Linked DNA regions of Homo sapiens. The protein of the gene in region 1 purifies or fractionates together with the protein of each later gene. This does not show direct contact. Each region holds a gene or a part of one and is shown on either strand. Other genes may lie near its edges.

What was found.
Region 2: the proteins of SLCO1C1 (region 1) and PLXDC2 purify together in Homo sapiens (affinity purification with mass spectrometry; one large-scale study listed by BioGRID and IntAct). This does not show direct contact.
Region 3: the proteins of SLCO1C1 (region 1) and CPVL purify together in Homo sapiens (affinity purification with mass spectrometry; one large-scale study listed by BioGRID and IntAct). This does not show direct contact.
Region 4: the proteins of SLCO1C1 (region 1) and UGGT1 purify together in Homo sapiens (affinity purification with mass spectrometry; one large-scale study listed by BioGRID and IntAct). This does not show direct contact.

Annotation. Positions count from the first base shown.
Region 1 is NC_000012.12:20,719,332-20,722,831, forward strand, and holds part of SLCO1C1 (solute carrier organic anion transporter family member 1C1), read left to right. Parts: intron 1-2,472; coding exon 2,473-2,718; intron 2,719-3,500. UniProt on the Homo sapiens protein: Mediates the Na(+)-independent high affinity transport of organic anions such as the thyroid hormones L-thyroxine (T4), L-thyroxine sulfate (T4S), and 3,3',5'-triiodo-L-thyronine (reverse T3, rT3) at the plasma membrane.
Region 2 is NC_000010.11:20,214,932-20,218,431, forward strand, and holds part of PLXDC2 (plexin domain-containing protein 2 isoform 1 precursor), read left to right. Parts: intron 1-2,494; coding exon 2,495-2,645; intron 2,646-3,500. UniProt on the Homo sapiens protein: May play a role in tumor angiogenesis.
Region 3 is NC_000007.14:29,066,538-29,070,037, forward strand, and holds part of CPVL (probable serine carboxypeptidase CPVL isoform b precursor), read right to left. Parts: intron 1-3,500. UniProt on the Homo sapiens protein: May be involved in the digestion of phagocytosed particles in the lysosome, participation in an inflammatory protease cascade, and trimming of peptides for antigen presentation.
Region 4 is NC_000002.12:128,097,700-128,101,199, reverse strand, and holds part of UGGT1 (UDP-glucose:glycoprotein glucosyltransferase 1 precursor), read right to left. Parts: intron 1-3,500. UniProt on the Homo sapiens protein: Recognizes glycoproteins with minor folding defects. Reglucosylates single N-glycans near the misfolded part of the protein, thus providing quality control for protein folding in the endoplasmic reticulum.

The DNA.
Region 1 (3,500 bases):
ATTAGGCCAATTAGTAACCCTACAATGACCTCTAGGTGTTTAAGTGAAAGGAAGAGTTGCACATCTCTCACTTTAAAAGGAAAGCTAGAAAAGATTAGGCTTAATGAGGAAGGCATGTTGAATGCCAAGACAGGCAAAAATCTAGGCCTCTTGCACCAAACAGTTACCCAAGTTGTGAATGTAAATTCTGGCAGGAATTTATAAAAGTGATACTCCAGTAAACACATGAAAGATAAGAAAGTGAAATAGCCTTATTGAGATAAAGTTTTAGTAGTCTGGAGAGAAGATTAAACCAGCCACAACATTTCCTTAAGCCAAAACCTAATTCAGAACAAGGCCTAACCCTCATTAATTCTATAAAGGCTGAAAGAGATGAGGAAGCTGCAGAAGAAAAGTTTGAAGCTGGCGCAAACAGGTTCATGAGGTTTTAGGAAAGAAGCTGTCTCCATAACACAAAAGTGCAAGGTGAAGCAGCCAGTGCCGGTGGAGAAGCTGCAGAAAGTTATCCAGAATATTTAACTAGGATTATTGATGAAAGTGGCTATGCTAAACAACAGATTTTCATCGTAGATGAAATAGTCTTCTATTGGAAGAAGATGCCATCTAGGACCTTCACAGCCATAGAGGAGAAGTCAATCCTGACTTTAAAGCTTCAAAGGACAGGGTGACTCTCTTGTTAGGGGCTAAGGCCACTGGTGACTTTAAGTTGAAGCCAATGCTCATTTAACATTCTGAAATTCCTACACATAGGCTCTTCCTGTGCTCTCTAACTAGAACAATAGAGATATGCTGAATGACAGCACATCTTTTTGCAGCATGGTTTACTAACTATTTGAAGCCCACTGTTAGGATCTGCTGCTCAGGAAAAAAAATATATATATATTCCTTTCAAAATATTACTGCTCATTGGCAATGCACCTAGTCACCCAAGAACTCTGATAGAGATGTACAAAGAGATAAATGTTTTCATGCCTGCTAACATACCGTCCATTTTATACCCCATGGATCAAGGAGTAATTTTGACTTTCAAGTCTTATTATTTAAGAAACGTATTTCACAAAGCTATAGCTATGATCAGTAGTGATTTCTAATGATTTCTAGTGATTTCTAATCTAGACAAAGTAAATTTAAAACCTTCTGGAAAGGATTCCCCATTTTAGATGCCATTAAGAGCATTTGCAATTCATAGGAGGAGGTCAAAATATCCACATTAGCAAGAGTGTGAAAGAAATTGATTTCAGCCCTCCTGGATGACTTTGAGGTGTTGAACACTTTAGTGGAGAAAGTAAGTGCATATGTGGTAGAAACAGCAAGACAACTATAATTAGAAATGAAGCTTGAAGATGCGACTGAATTGCTGCAATCTCATGATAAAGCTTGAACAGGCTGGGCGCGGTGGCTCATGCCTGTAATCCCAGCACTTTGGGAGGCCAAGGCGGGCAGATCACCTGAGGTCAGGAGTTCGAGACTGGCCTGAGCAGCATGGAGAAACCCTGTCTCTACTAAAAATACAAAATTAGCCGGGCGTGGTGGCACATGCCTGTAATCCCAGCTACTAGGGAGGCTAAGGCAGGAGAATCGCTTGAACCCGGGAGGCGGAGGTTGTGGTGGGCCGAGATCGCGCCATTGCACTCCAGCCTGGGCAACAAGAGTGAAACTCCATCTCAAAAAAAAAAAAAAAAAAAAAAGCTTAAACAGATGAAGGGTTGCTTCTTGTGGATGAACAAAGTGAATGGCTTCTTGAGATGGAACCTACTCCTGATGAAGATGCTGTGAACATTACTGAAATGACAACAAAAGATTTAGTAAATTACATAAACTTAGTTGATAAAGCAGTGTCAGGGCTTGAGAAGATTGACTCCAATTTTGAAAGAAGTTTTACTGTGGGTAAAAATGCTGTCAAATAGCATTGCATACTACAGAGAAAACTTTCATGAAGGAAAGAGCTGATCTATGTGGCAAGCTTCATCATTTTCTTATGTTCATACATTGCCACAGTCATTTCAACCTCCAACAACCACTGCCCTGATCAGTCAGCAGCCATCAACATTGAGATGGGATCCTGTACCAGCAAAAAGATCACTATTCACTGAAGGCTCAGATGATTATTAGCATTTTTTAAGCAATAACTTTTTTTTTAAATGAAGGTATGTACATTTTCAGACATAATGCTGTTGCATACTTAATAGACTACAGTATAGTTAAACATAACTTTTGTATGCCCTGGGAAACAAAAAAATTGATGTGATTCTGTATTGTGAAATTCACTTCATTGTGGTGGTCTGGAGCTGAACCTGCAAAATCTCCAAGGTATGCCTGTGGTAAGATCCAGATAAAAAAAAAAATAGCATAGATGAATTATTAGGTATTTTATGATGTTATAGAGTTTTGCAAGAATTTATTTTTAAGTATATTATTTTAACATATTAGCTTTGCTGTTTGTATTACTTAGCCATCCCCTCTGTCTTTCAGATCACATAACCATTACCCCAAAAGATCCCCAGTGGGTAGGAGCCTGGTGGCTTGGCTATCTAATAGCAGGAATCATAAGTCTTCTTGCAGCTGTGCCTTTCTGGTATTTACCAAAGAGTTTACCAAGATCCCAAAGTAGAGAGGATTCTAATTCTTCCTCTGAGAAATCCAAGTTTATTATAGATGATCACACAGACTACCAAACACCCCAGGGAGAAAATGCAAAAATAATGGAAATGGCAAGAGGTAAGTCAAATTCTTGATTTTGAAGTATTTTCATTTTTCTGTTGGGGCTTAAGGAGATTTATAAATTACATCCCTCTCTTCCCTTCGTGTATTAAAAAGTTGAGAAACCATATCAGAAGCAAAAATGGAAATTGATGTCAGCTTTATTACTGAACAACTGATTGCAGTACACGACCAAAGAGCAAAGGCTTGACAGCCATTCCTGCTGATGTCTCCACCCTCTCACACCTCCTCAGTTTAGATCCTACCATTGTCTCTACCCAGGATTGCTGCTTCCTGTAATTCTGTGTATACAGGAAATAAAAGGCTTAATCTTCAAGGTTGGCAGCCTTTCAACAGATAAGATCTATTCATTTGAGAGATGTGTATCAATGCATGTCTCTCACCAATGATCAAAGGGGTGAGTGTTCTGTAGGCAAAAACCCAGTGTTCTAATGAACCCCCTTCATGGAAATGAGCAGCCCCTCATGATATTGGTCCCCCTCTTCTTGTCCCTTCAAGCAATATTTACATTTATAGAAATTCTTCACATGTCTAATTGGTAGGCTACATAATAGGAAAAAGGGAGAACACCAATGCTCATTTCTAACACTAAAATTCATATATTAAATGGAGATAACTCTCATATTTCTTTCTCTTTGACCACAAGCTAAGTTTGAGGAATAGAGACAAGAAAAGTGAAGGTCTTTATGTCCTGCCTGTGGCTCCCAGCTAGATGATGAGGGAGTATTCTCATCCTTTTCGTCTTTTGCCCACATCAGTTAGAGGAATCTGTTCTTGTC
Region 2 (3,500 bases), on another chromosome or scaffold:
CTGGTCAATAGATGACTTTTTGGGCCTGAAATCCAAAAGAGGAATGTGGACTGGAAATATAGATTTATGAATAATCAACATAAAGATGTTCATTGCAGTCATGGGTGTAGAAGAGATTGCAAAAGATAATGCATAGAATGAAGTGACAGAGCAAGAATGATCCATAAGAACCACCCCAACACTTAAGGAATTGACATAAATAAAAGGAAATTGAGATGGAGTTGTGAGGGAGGTGTCAGAACATTGAGGAGAGGGTGTGTCACAGAAACCAAGACAGGGGAGTGGACATCTGCACCATAGGCTGATGAGGTGTCAGTAGGACACCATGGAAGATGTTGGATATTTAGCTAAGGAGATATTTAGAAACATTGGTACGAGAAATTTCAACTCAGTTGGATTAGGTAAGAGCAAGATTGTCATAAAAGGGAAAGCTGGGAGTCTGAGAAGACCAAGGCAGACTGATCTCTCTGGAAATATGACTGCGTATGAATGGAGGGAAAGCAGTATAATGTCAGGATGCATTGGGGAGAAGAGGGAGGCAGTCCCTCTTCTGGGACTGCCTCCCTTTGCAAACTGGAATTTGGGTTTGCAAAATAAGATTAGGCATGCTTGTGTACCTTTAAGTGTTGTTGATAAGAAGCCAGCAGAGAATTAGGGGTGGCAAATATTGTAGAGAAAGGACTATGATCACCTAAGCAAATTCACAATACCTGTGAAGGTGGGCTGAGTTGAGCTAGGACATAGGTAGAAATAGGTTGAAAGGATGGCTATAAGGAAAGGTCCCCATCCATTATCACAGAAGGAAAGAATAGGTCAGCCCAGAGTCAAGTAAGTATGCTGATTCACTAAGAAATTTAAAGAAATCTTGCTGATCATGCCTATTTATCAAGGAAATGGAAGGTGAACCCAAGGAGTAAAACCGGGAGAATCATGATGGGATTGCAGTTTTAGGTAAAGTGGAGAGAGCTTGAAATTCATACTGAGCATAATGGGAGAGGTGATTAGCAAGACACAGCAATGCTGCCAAGTGGTATGCACGGCCCTGCTAAGGATGCAGGAGATGTTTGTGGAGCCCCCATGGCGGGTCTGTGTGATTATTCTCCAGCTGTGCCTGGCTTTGGAGCAGGCAGGGAAAAGGCAGATCTTTTCTTTAAAGGTGTTGTAGAAAAAAAAACTAAAAAAAAAAAAAAATAAAAAAATAGAGCAAGATGCTTGAAGCTACTGAAATGAGTGGTTGAAGTAATGGGGGAAAAAGAAACTTAAAAACAAAATCATTTTCTTAGGCTTTCTAAGTAGTCAAAGAATAAGAAGAATTGGAGTTCGCAGGTACAGGGATAGATGGAAAAAGGATAACTGAGCTTATGATTTCAGATCTAAAACATTTTCCACTACAGATATAGTCCAGGGTGTGGGGATGACAACTAAAGTGGTATCTGAAAGGAAATAATTAGATTAATGGGGCTCAGAGGTGCAGGAACTGGAATTTGGGGAATTAAATGAGACCCTAGTATGTTTAGACTTGAAGTGGAGAATAAACCTGTTTCATATCCTATTAATGAAAAGGAGGCTGTCTCAGGAAGTCTGCATTAACAAGGGGAAAGGCACCTAGCGCTCCACTAATGATGAGAGAAGTTTAAGAATGATATTTATTTAACAATAATTTTAAAATGTGGGATGAGAACCACTCATGTCCAGAATAGTTATTTTCTACTCAAGGCCCACCTGAGAGAGGGAGTCCACTGCGGCACAAAAGGTGGATAGAAACACCAACTTCTAAGCTATAAAAGTTTGGATGTTGGAGGTTGTTACCAGTGAAGGTTGTAGGATTTGTTTTCACAAATTAAAAATAAAAAATTCACTATGTCTCATTTCCTGATGTTTTCAATATAGCTCTGCTAAGGAGGAAAATAGGCTGAGTGATTACAAGAGTTCTGTTCAATCCTTTGCTTATGTGGTTTTGAATATTTCATAAAGGAAAACAAAATTTTAGACATTCATTCAACTTGTGACAGATGATTTTTGAAACAATGAAGTAGTATGGGGAAGTTAGCAAATATTTCGGATTTAGCATTGTCAGTTTGATACGAAAGGAATGCACTTTTTCTCCACAAACCTGAGTATGTTTTAAACCTTATCTTTATGCACCTGTTTTTCTTCTAGTATAAATTTTCCCTTTTGACAGTGTGTCTTTTATAAATATACCAATGTAAAATTTAGGGCAAGGTAAACAGTAATATGAAAGCTTAACAGCAGTAAATGATGAAACCTAAATATCTAAAAAGGGAAATGCCTTGTTCCATCCATCTTTTTCTCTTTCCTATTTTATAAACTTCATAAATTAGCAAAATCATTAATATAGTCTTGTACAAAAGTAATTTATTCCTTGTCTTGATATGAGAGGCTTTTGTGCTTTACAGCCCAGCTTCTTTGATGTAAGTTCTAAAAATAGATTTGTGATCACTCCATTTGTTTTCCTTTTCTTTTCTCTTACTAGTCAAAAGAGAAGATGTGTGAGAATACAGAACCAGTGGAAACTTCTTCTCGAACCACCACAACCGTAGGAGCGACAACCACCCAGTTCAGGGTCCTAACTACCACCAGAAGAGCAGTGACTTCTCAGTTTCCCACCAGCCTCCCTACAGAAGGTACCCAAGAGATAGTTTGCTTTTTTTTTTTTTTTTTTTTTTTTTTTTCCCTGAAGGAAGGAAAAATCACTGTGTTGACATGTACTGGAATAGCTCCTACTCTCTAGGTCTCTCTAAAGTTATTCTTTGGCAAACTGGATTTCTAAGGGATTTCCAAAGGGGAAAAAGACAAAATTATTATGAACTAAAAGTAAATGCTGGGATTCTTTTAATGCACTGTGCCTTTTTTTAAGACATAGCTTTTACCATTGATTCTGGCTTCTTGTCCTCTCCTTCCTAGAAAAGAAATACAGATTTCTTCCTGTGTGGCTAAATTTTGTACTAAGCAAATCCAACTTCACAATCACAGGTTAGAAAGGCAAAATGCATATAAAATGTCCGTTGATTCTGGATTCTGAACAATAAATAATTCTATTAATATATAATTCTAATGTTTTCCAGAATGCAGTCAATAAAATATATTGGTCTATAACCTATACAGAAACACTGTATGTGTCATAGAAATTGTCCTTGAAAACAACTATTTCCTCTTCTAAGGTAGGCAGAAATACTAGAGAGTGTTAATGCTTGGGCACAGCTCAGGAGGAAGAAAGTGTATTACCCAACATACGATAATTTTCTATTCTGAATGATACCACCAGGAGGGAGAGGGCAGAAACATAAGACTGGCCACGAATCAGGTTTGAGGGGGATAAATGGGTCTTACTTGTTTATTGTTATAAGCCTCACTTTCTTTGGCTTGAATAAAAAATTAAATATGGAACTTTTAATTGGAATTTAATTTGATATTATAAGGTGAACTGGAATAAAGTGGGGTGGAAAGCAGCTGCTAAGTGCATTTTACTGCTTTTAAAA
Region 3 (3,500 bases), on another chromosome or scaffold:
AAAGACATATTGGATGAGAGGAATAGAGCCATGCAGACATCTAGGGGAAGGAAGGTTCCAGGCAGAGGACACAGTAAGCTCAAAGGCCTTGCCTATGGGAGTAAGCCTTGTGGGAAGGGTGCCTTAACATGGATCATGAACTGCTCACCAGATGACATGGAGAGAAGACGCAGGATATGGTGCAGATGCAGGTTCCTGGAGCTGGTGGAAGTTATCTTTGGGCTGACATTAAAAAACCCAGTCACCAGCTGAGCGGGAGAGCAGTCAGCATGGTTGCATGCTTTCCTCCAGCCATTGTCAGCTGTGTGGAGACAAGCACAGCCTGACAGAGAGGCAGATTGAGCCAGGGCTGTGGTTCAGCCAAAGGAGTTGGAAGAAATGCAAAAGAGCTTTGGGCTTGGAAATGTATGGAATGACTGACCCTGGGTTGAAGACAGGTAATTAGAGAAATGGAGACTTGAGGGGGTTAGAGATAGTGGAGAGGCAGGAGGATCAATGGATTGAAAGGTAGTGAGGTTGCAGGGCTGTAAGATCAGTACATTAGCAGAAGAGATTCGGACAGGAGGTGGTAGTTGGAGAAAGATGTTTGAATGTGTGATTGTGGATCAGCTGCCAGCATTTTAGGGTATGAGAATCAGCAGCTAAGATGAGGAGGAGAACAAGATCATTGAAAAAGAGGAGGCTGAGGCACCAAGGACCAGGTCCCAAAAGGATCGTCAATGTGGATCCTGCAGTTACCAGGAATTATGACAAGAATAATGCTGCAGAGAGTGACAGGGAGGAAGGAGCTCAGCTATTCAAATGAGAGGGAGTAACCAGGGGTTGGTAGGCAGACACAGTTGGAAGTGGTCAGAGGCCCTGTCTGAGGACAGGAGAGTCAAAGCTCAATGCTTTAGGAGGAGGCAGGGAACATGATCTGAAAGTCACATGATGAGCAAGGAAGACACCTACTCCACCTATGAACCAAGTGATACAGACAAGCTAAGAGAGAGAACAGCCCCCACTCAAGAGGACCACAGGGACTGCAGCATCAGGGGAGAGCCAGGTTTCTGGCAAAGCAAGAAGATGAAGAGAAGAAAATAGTCACAGAAGAGGTTGAAGACATGGAGGGGGGTTGTTGATGATGATATTAAGTTGTAAGGAGTTCTTACAAAAGAATTCAAAGAAATGAAGTCAGCACATGTTAAAAACAATCTATCAAGTACAAATTTAGGTCTCTTATCAGATAAGGTATTATTATTCTAATTTTATGGGTGAGAAAACTGAGACACATGAGTTTAAGCAACTTGCCGAGGACACCTCACTAATAATGTCAGAGATGAGATGATTAGGCCACGACTCCTGAGCCTGCACACTCAACCACGCACACACTGGCTCCCAGCAGTCAGCCTGCAATGCTTCCTACTTGCCAATTCCTTCTGGCCATGCTTCAATGCTTGAGAAAATAGACTAATTATTATATTCATATTCTTTTTTTTTTTTTTTGAGATGGAGTCTCGCACTGTCACTCAGGCTGGAGTGCAGTGGTGAGATCTCAGCTCACTGCAACTTCTGCCTCCCGGATTCAAGCAATTCTCCTGCCTCAGCCTCCCGAGTACCTGAGATTAAAGGCGCCTGCCACCACGCCCAGCTAATTTTTTTTTGTGTGTGTGTATTTTTAATAGAGACGGGGTTTCACCATGTTGATCAGGCTGGTCTCGAACTCCTGACCTTGTGATCTGCCCACCTCGGCCTCCTAAAGTGCTGGGATTACAGGTGTAAGCCACCGCCCCCGGCCTGTATTCATATTCTTTTTCAAACATGAAAGAACTTATTCAAGTTCCTATTGCCATGGGGCTAGAGGCCAAGAATGAAAAGGGTTATCACCATAGAAGGCGGTGTGGGTGGAGGTGGTAGTAAGTATTCTCTACCAATGCTACCATTGCTCAGGGCCCCACATCTGGTTGTGCAGCTCCATGCGATGCCTGTGGCTAAGGGGTGCAAAGGGACAGGGAACCAGCCAAAGTTCTGCTCGCTGAGCTGGAGAGCCTGGCTCAGGGCTGCATCTGGAGAAGTGGCCACCTCTTATCCTCACACAATGGAGGCATCTGCCTGCCCCGTCCTGAACCCACAGGACTGCATCACCACAGAGGAGGTGTCTTTTTCTTTTTTTTTTTCTTTGTTTTTTTTTTTTTTGAGATGGAGTCTCGCTCTGTCACCCAGGCTGGAGTGCAGTGGCGCGATCTTGGCTCACTGCAAGCTCCGCCTCCTGGGTTCACGCCATTCTCCTGCCTCAGCCTCCCGAGTAGCTGGGACTACAGGCGCCCGCCACTACGCCCGGCTAACTTTTTTGTATTTTTAGTAGAGACGGGGTTTCACCGTGGTCTCGATCTCCTGACCTCGTGATCCGCCCGCCTCGGCCTCCCAAAGTGCTGGGATTACAGGCGTGAGCCACTGCGCCCGGCCGAGGTGTCTTTTTCTAATTTGTTCACCCAGATGGGGCACCATAGGCCAGGGTCATTCTGAATGCACACATCATTTTTGGAACTCATTGTTAGAAATTATCTTCAACACCAGTGGGAATATAAAGTCAACCTTGAAGAATAACTTTGCTTTTAGAAAGAGTTAAAAGTCATTTGTTGGCCAGGCATGGTGGCTCACAGCTGTAATCCCAGCACTTTGGAAGGCCGAGGCGGGCGGATCACTTGAGGTCCGGAGTTTGAGACCAGCCCAGCCAACACGGTGAAAACCCGTCTCTACTAAAAATAAGAAAAATTAGCCATTCGTGGTGGCGAGTGCCTGTAATCCCAGCTACTCGGGAGGCTGAGGCAGGAGAATGGCTTGAACCTGGGAGGTGGAGGTTGCAGTGAGCTGAGATCTTGCCACTGCACTCCAGCCTGGGCAAGAGAGCGAGACTCCGTCTCAAAAAAAAAAAAAAAAAAAAGAAAAAGTCAGTTGTTGTCAAAAAATAACATGGGTGGTCAAGACCTGTGAAACTAAGAACTTTGTGATTCAGAAAATCATCATGGAAAGGGAGGTAATACTGGACAGAGGATCAGTCATTTCACATCTTGCAGAATATCTAAGACGATCCAGGATTTTTACAGAATGCCTGAAAATTACCATAGGATAAATACTGTGGTGGAAATGGGGGAAGCAATTCCAGTCCTCAGCCTGCCACAATCTATTTGTGTATCCTTCGGCAATTCATTGCTATCCCCTGGGGCTCGGCATCCTCTCCACTCACCAGTAAATGTGTGTGTGTGTGTGTGTGTGTGTGTGTGTGTGTGTGTGTGTGTGTGTGTGTGTGTGCATGTAAATGCATAGGGACAGTAGATGACCTATCTCCAGAGTACTCTCCAGCTCTGAGTTACTACTCTTTGATTAATTAAATCATTTTAAAGGATCAGAGCGTCAAACAGGCTTTATCATTTTAGGCTTGAGATTCTGACATTTATATTCCCCTGGGTTTCAGGATTTGTTGGAGTCTTCCTTTGCAGTCACTGAAACACATTTCAACC
Region 4 (3,500 bases), on another chromosome or scaffold:
GCTCTGCTAGCTCTGGAGGTGAATACTAAGTGGATTCTAATAAGCATAGCTCATTTCTATGAGTTGCCTACATGTCGTATTACCTTGGGAAACTGTATACAAATAGCCACAGGAGAAGGGGCCTAAAAATAGTAAACCAAAAGGGCAAATGTAGCTCTTACTTCACATGCCAAGGAAAAAAATTAATAAAAATAAAACAAAATGGCAAATGACCAGGGATATCATGAAAGGGGGAGATGTCTGTGATAAGGAAGTTGGTGAAGAAAACAGTATACCCTGTCCACTTCACAGTGATCAAAGAAACTGAAAATATTGAGCAATTAGGGCTGGCAATTTTAGCATTCTTTCTCAAAAGTCCATAGTTTTATGCTGTAAGAATCTTCTAGGACAATGATCAAGAATGTACAACTATCAAGAAATTAGTGTAAATAAAAGTGAAAGTAACAAAATGTAATTCAGGGTAAGAATGTTAAACAGAGGCCTGGCGCGGTGGCTCACACCTGTAATCCCAGCACTTTGGGAGGCCGAGATGGGTGGATCACCTGAGGTGGGGAGTTCCAGACCAGCCTGACCAACATAGAGAAACTCCATCGCTACTAAAAAAAAAAAAAAAAAAAAATACAAAATTAGCCGGACTTGGTGGTGCATGCCTGTAATCCCAGCTACTCAGGAGGCTGAGGCAAGAGAATCGCTTGAACCTGGGAGGCAGAGGTTGCGGTGAGCCGAGATCACGCCATTGCACTCCAGCCTGGGCAACAAGAGCGAAACTCCATCTCAAAAAAAGAATGTTAAACAGAATATCACAAAAACACCTGTTACAGTTAATTGTACAAAATGATTCAGAAAGTGATAGTAAATCTTGGCCAGGCCCGGTGGCTCACGCCTGTAATCCCAGCACTTTGGGAGGCCAAGGAGGGCAGATCACCTGAGGTCAGGAGTTCAGACCAGCCTGGCGGCCAACATGGTAAAACCCCATCTCTACTGAAAATATAAAAATTAGCCAGGCATGCTGGCACACGCCGGTAATCCCAGCTACTTGGGAGGCTAAGGCAGGAGAATGAGAATGGGCTTGAACCTGGGAGGCAGAGGTTGCAGTGAGCCAAGATGGCGCCACTGAACTCCAGTCTGGGTGACAAAATGAAACTCTGTCTCAAAAAAAATAAGTAGGGTGGGGGGGGGGGTTGTAAATCTCAATGACAGATTTTATACCAAACAAATCATCCAAAATAAGATTAGCAAAAAGGAAAAGAAAAACTTTAGTTTTTAGAGTCCAGCTCAGGCAGTCCAGCTCAGGCAGTCTCAAAATATCTTCAGTCACTGCTTTTTTGTTTGTTATTTGCTTTGTTGGGCTTTTTTCCCCCATAATAAGAACTCTTAAAAAAGAGCCACTTCACTTTTACAACTATGCTGTATCAAATAAAGTTCTGACATTTGACAAGCTTGACCCATTTATCAAGTTAGTTATCACCATGAAATACATACAATGGTTTTGTCTTTGTTTTGCCACTTCTATGCTGAGAAAGAAAGGCAGAGAGAGGCGATGGAAGGAAGTCTATTTAGCAGAAAGTCTGCTAGGCTCCTGAGCTAGCCAAGACCGGCTGCCACATGCCCCCTCCCACTGGTCCTTTTAGCAGTATCAAATGAGGCTTTTTCCTTAAGAGGTGCAACCATTCGTTCACACAATCAACATGGCAAAATTCTTCATCCACATTTTTCTAGGAATTAAGGGGAAAATGTTAGAATACAAAATTCTAGAGGCCAGGCATGGTGGCTCACACCTGTAATTCCACCACTTTGGGAGGCCAAGGCAGGTAGATCACTTGAGCTCAGGAGTTCCAGACCAGCCTGGCCAAGATGGTGAAAGCCCATCTCTATAAAACATACAAAAATAAGCCAGGGGTAGTGGCTCACACCTGTAGTCCCAGCTACTAGGGAGGCCTAGGTGGGAGGATGGCTTGAGTCCAGGAGGCAGAGGTTACAGGGAGCTGAGATCACACCACTACACTCTAGCCTGAACAACAGAGACAGGCCTTGTCTCAAAAACTCTCAAAAAAATATATATATATAAATTGAAGATGAAGAAGACAGACCACAAGGCTGATTGGAGTGATGTGACAGTCCAAATTTCTAGCACGTTCAAACACTAAGACTTACCAAGTGCTTGCTGCTCAATCTACCCACATTTATCCTTTGGAAAGTCTCTGCTAGTTCCACCTCTACATCACTTGAGATACAATCAAATAACCTTCCATCCATAAGCATTTAAGCCCTACCTATACAGACAGGTATCTCATTATATTTATTTACAAACACTAGCTAAAAAGCACACTTGGAATACAAAATTTCTCATGAAATTACTATGTTTCACTAATTTTAAGACAACTATTGTTTTATGAAAAATTCTACCCATTTTAATCGTAAGATAACTTCTTTCCCTTTTTTTTTTTTTTTGAGACGGAGTCTTGCTCTGCTGCCCAGGCTGGACTGCAATGGCGTGATCTGGGCTCACTGCAACCTCCGCCTCCTGGGCTCAAGTGATCCTCCCGGTCAGCCTCCCAAGTAGCTGGGACTATAGGCACGAACCACCACACTCAGCTATTTTTTTCTGGAGAGACGGGGTTTCCCCATGTTGCCCAGGCTGGTCTCAAATTCCTGGACTCAAGCAATCCACCCACCTCAGCCTCCCAAAGAGCTGGGATTTACAGGCATGAGCCACCGTACCTAGCCACCGTTTTATCATTTAAAAAGAAAGATTGAGCTGCATGGGCATAATCTCCTAATCTGATGCTCAGGCACATGCCAGCACGCTCAGCTAATTGTTGCCAGGCTGGTCTCGAACTCCTGACCTCAGGTGATCCACCCACCTTGTCCACCCAAAGTGTTGGGATTATAGGCGTGAGCCACCGTGCCCAGCCTTCTTCCACGTTCTTAAGGGAAAAATGTCCTCTTTCCCCCACGTTGCTAAGCCCTCTTCTCTTCCTTTTATCAATCACCTCTTAAAACTTCCTTCAAATAAGGAGAAAATTTGAATACAACTGGCCAGGCACAGTGGCTCACATCTGTAATCCCAGCACTTTGGGAGGCCAAGGTAGGCAGATCACATGAGGCTAAGGAGTTTGAGACCAGCCTGGCCAACATGGCGAAACCCCTTCTCTACTAAAAATACAAAGATTAGCAGGGTGTGGTGGGGCACTTCCGTGATCCCAGCTACTCAGGAGGCAGAGGCATGAGAATCCCTTGAACCCAGGAGGCGGAGGTCACAGTGAGCCAAGATCTCACCACTGCACTCCAGCCTGGGCAACAGAGCGAGACCCTGTCTCCAAAAATAAATAAATAAATAAACATAACCCTCTCTTTCCTTGTTATGCTTTTTGGAAAGTAACATACTAACTTATCCAACACAGTTATTTGTCCAAAGTTCCTACATAGCTCTATAAACCCACATAGCCCTTGTCCTACTGAATGATGCTATGTCCTAACAGCCTTTGTACAATACATCC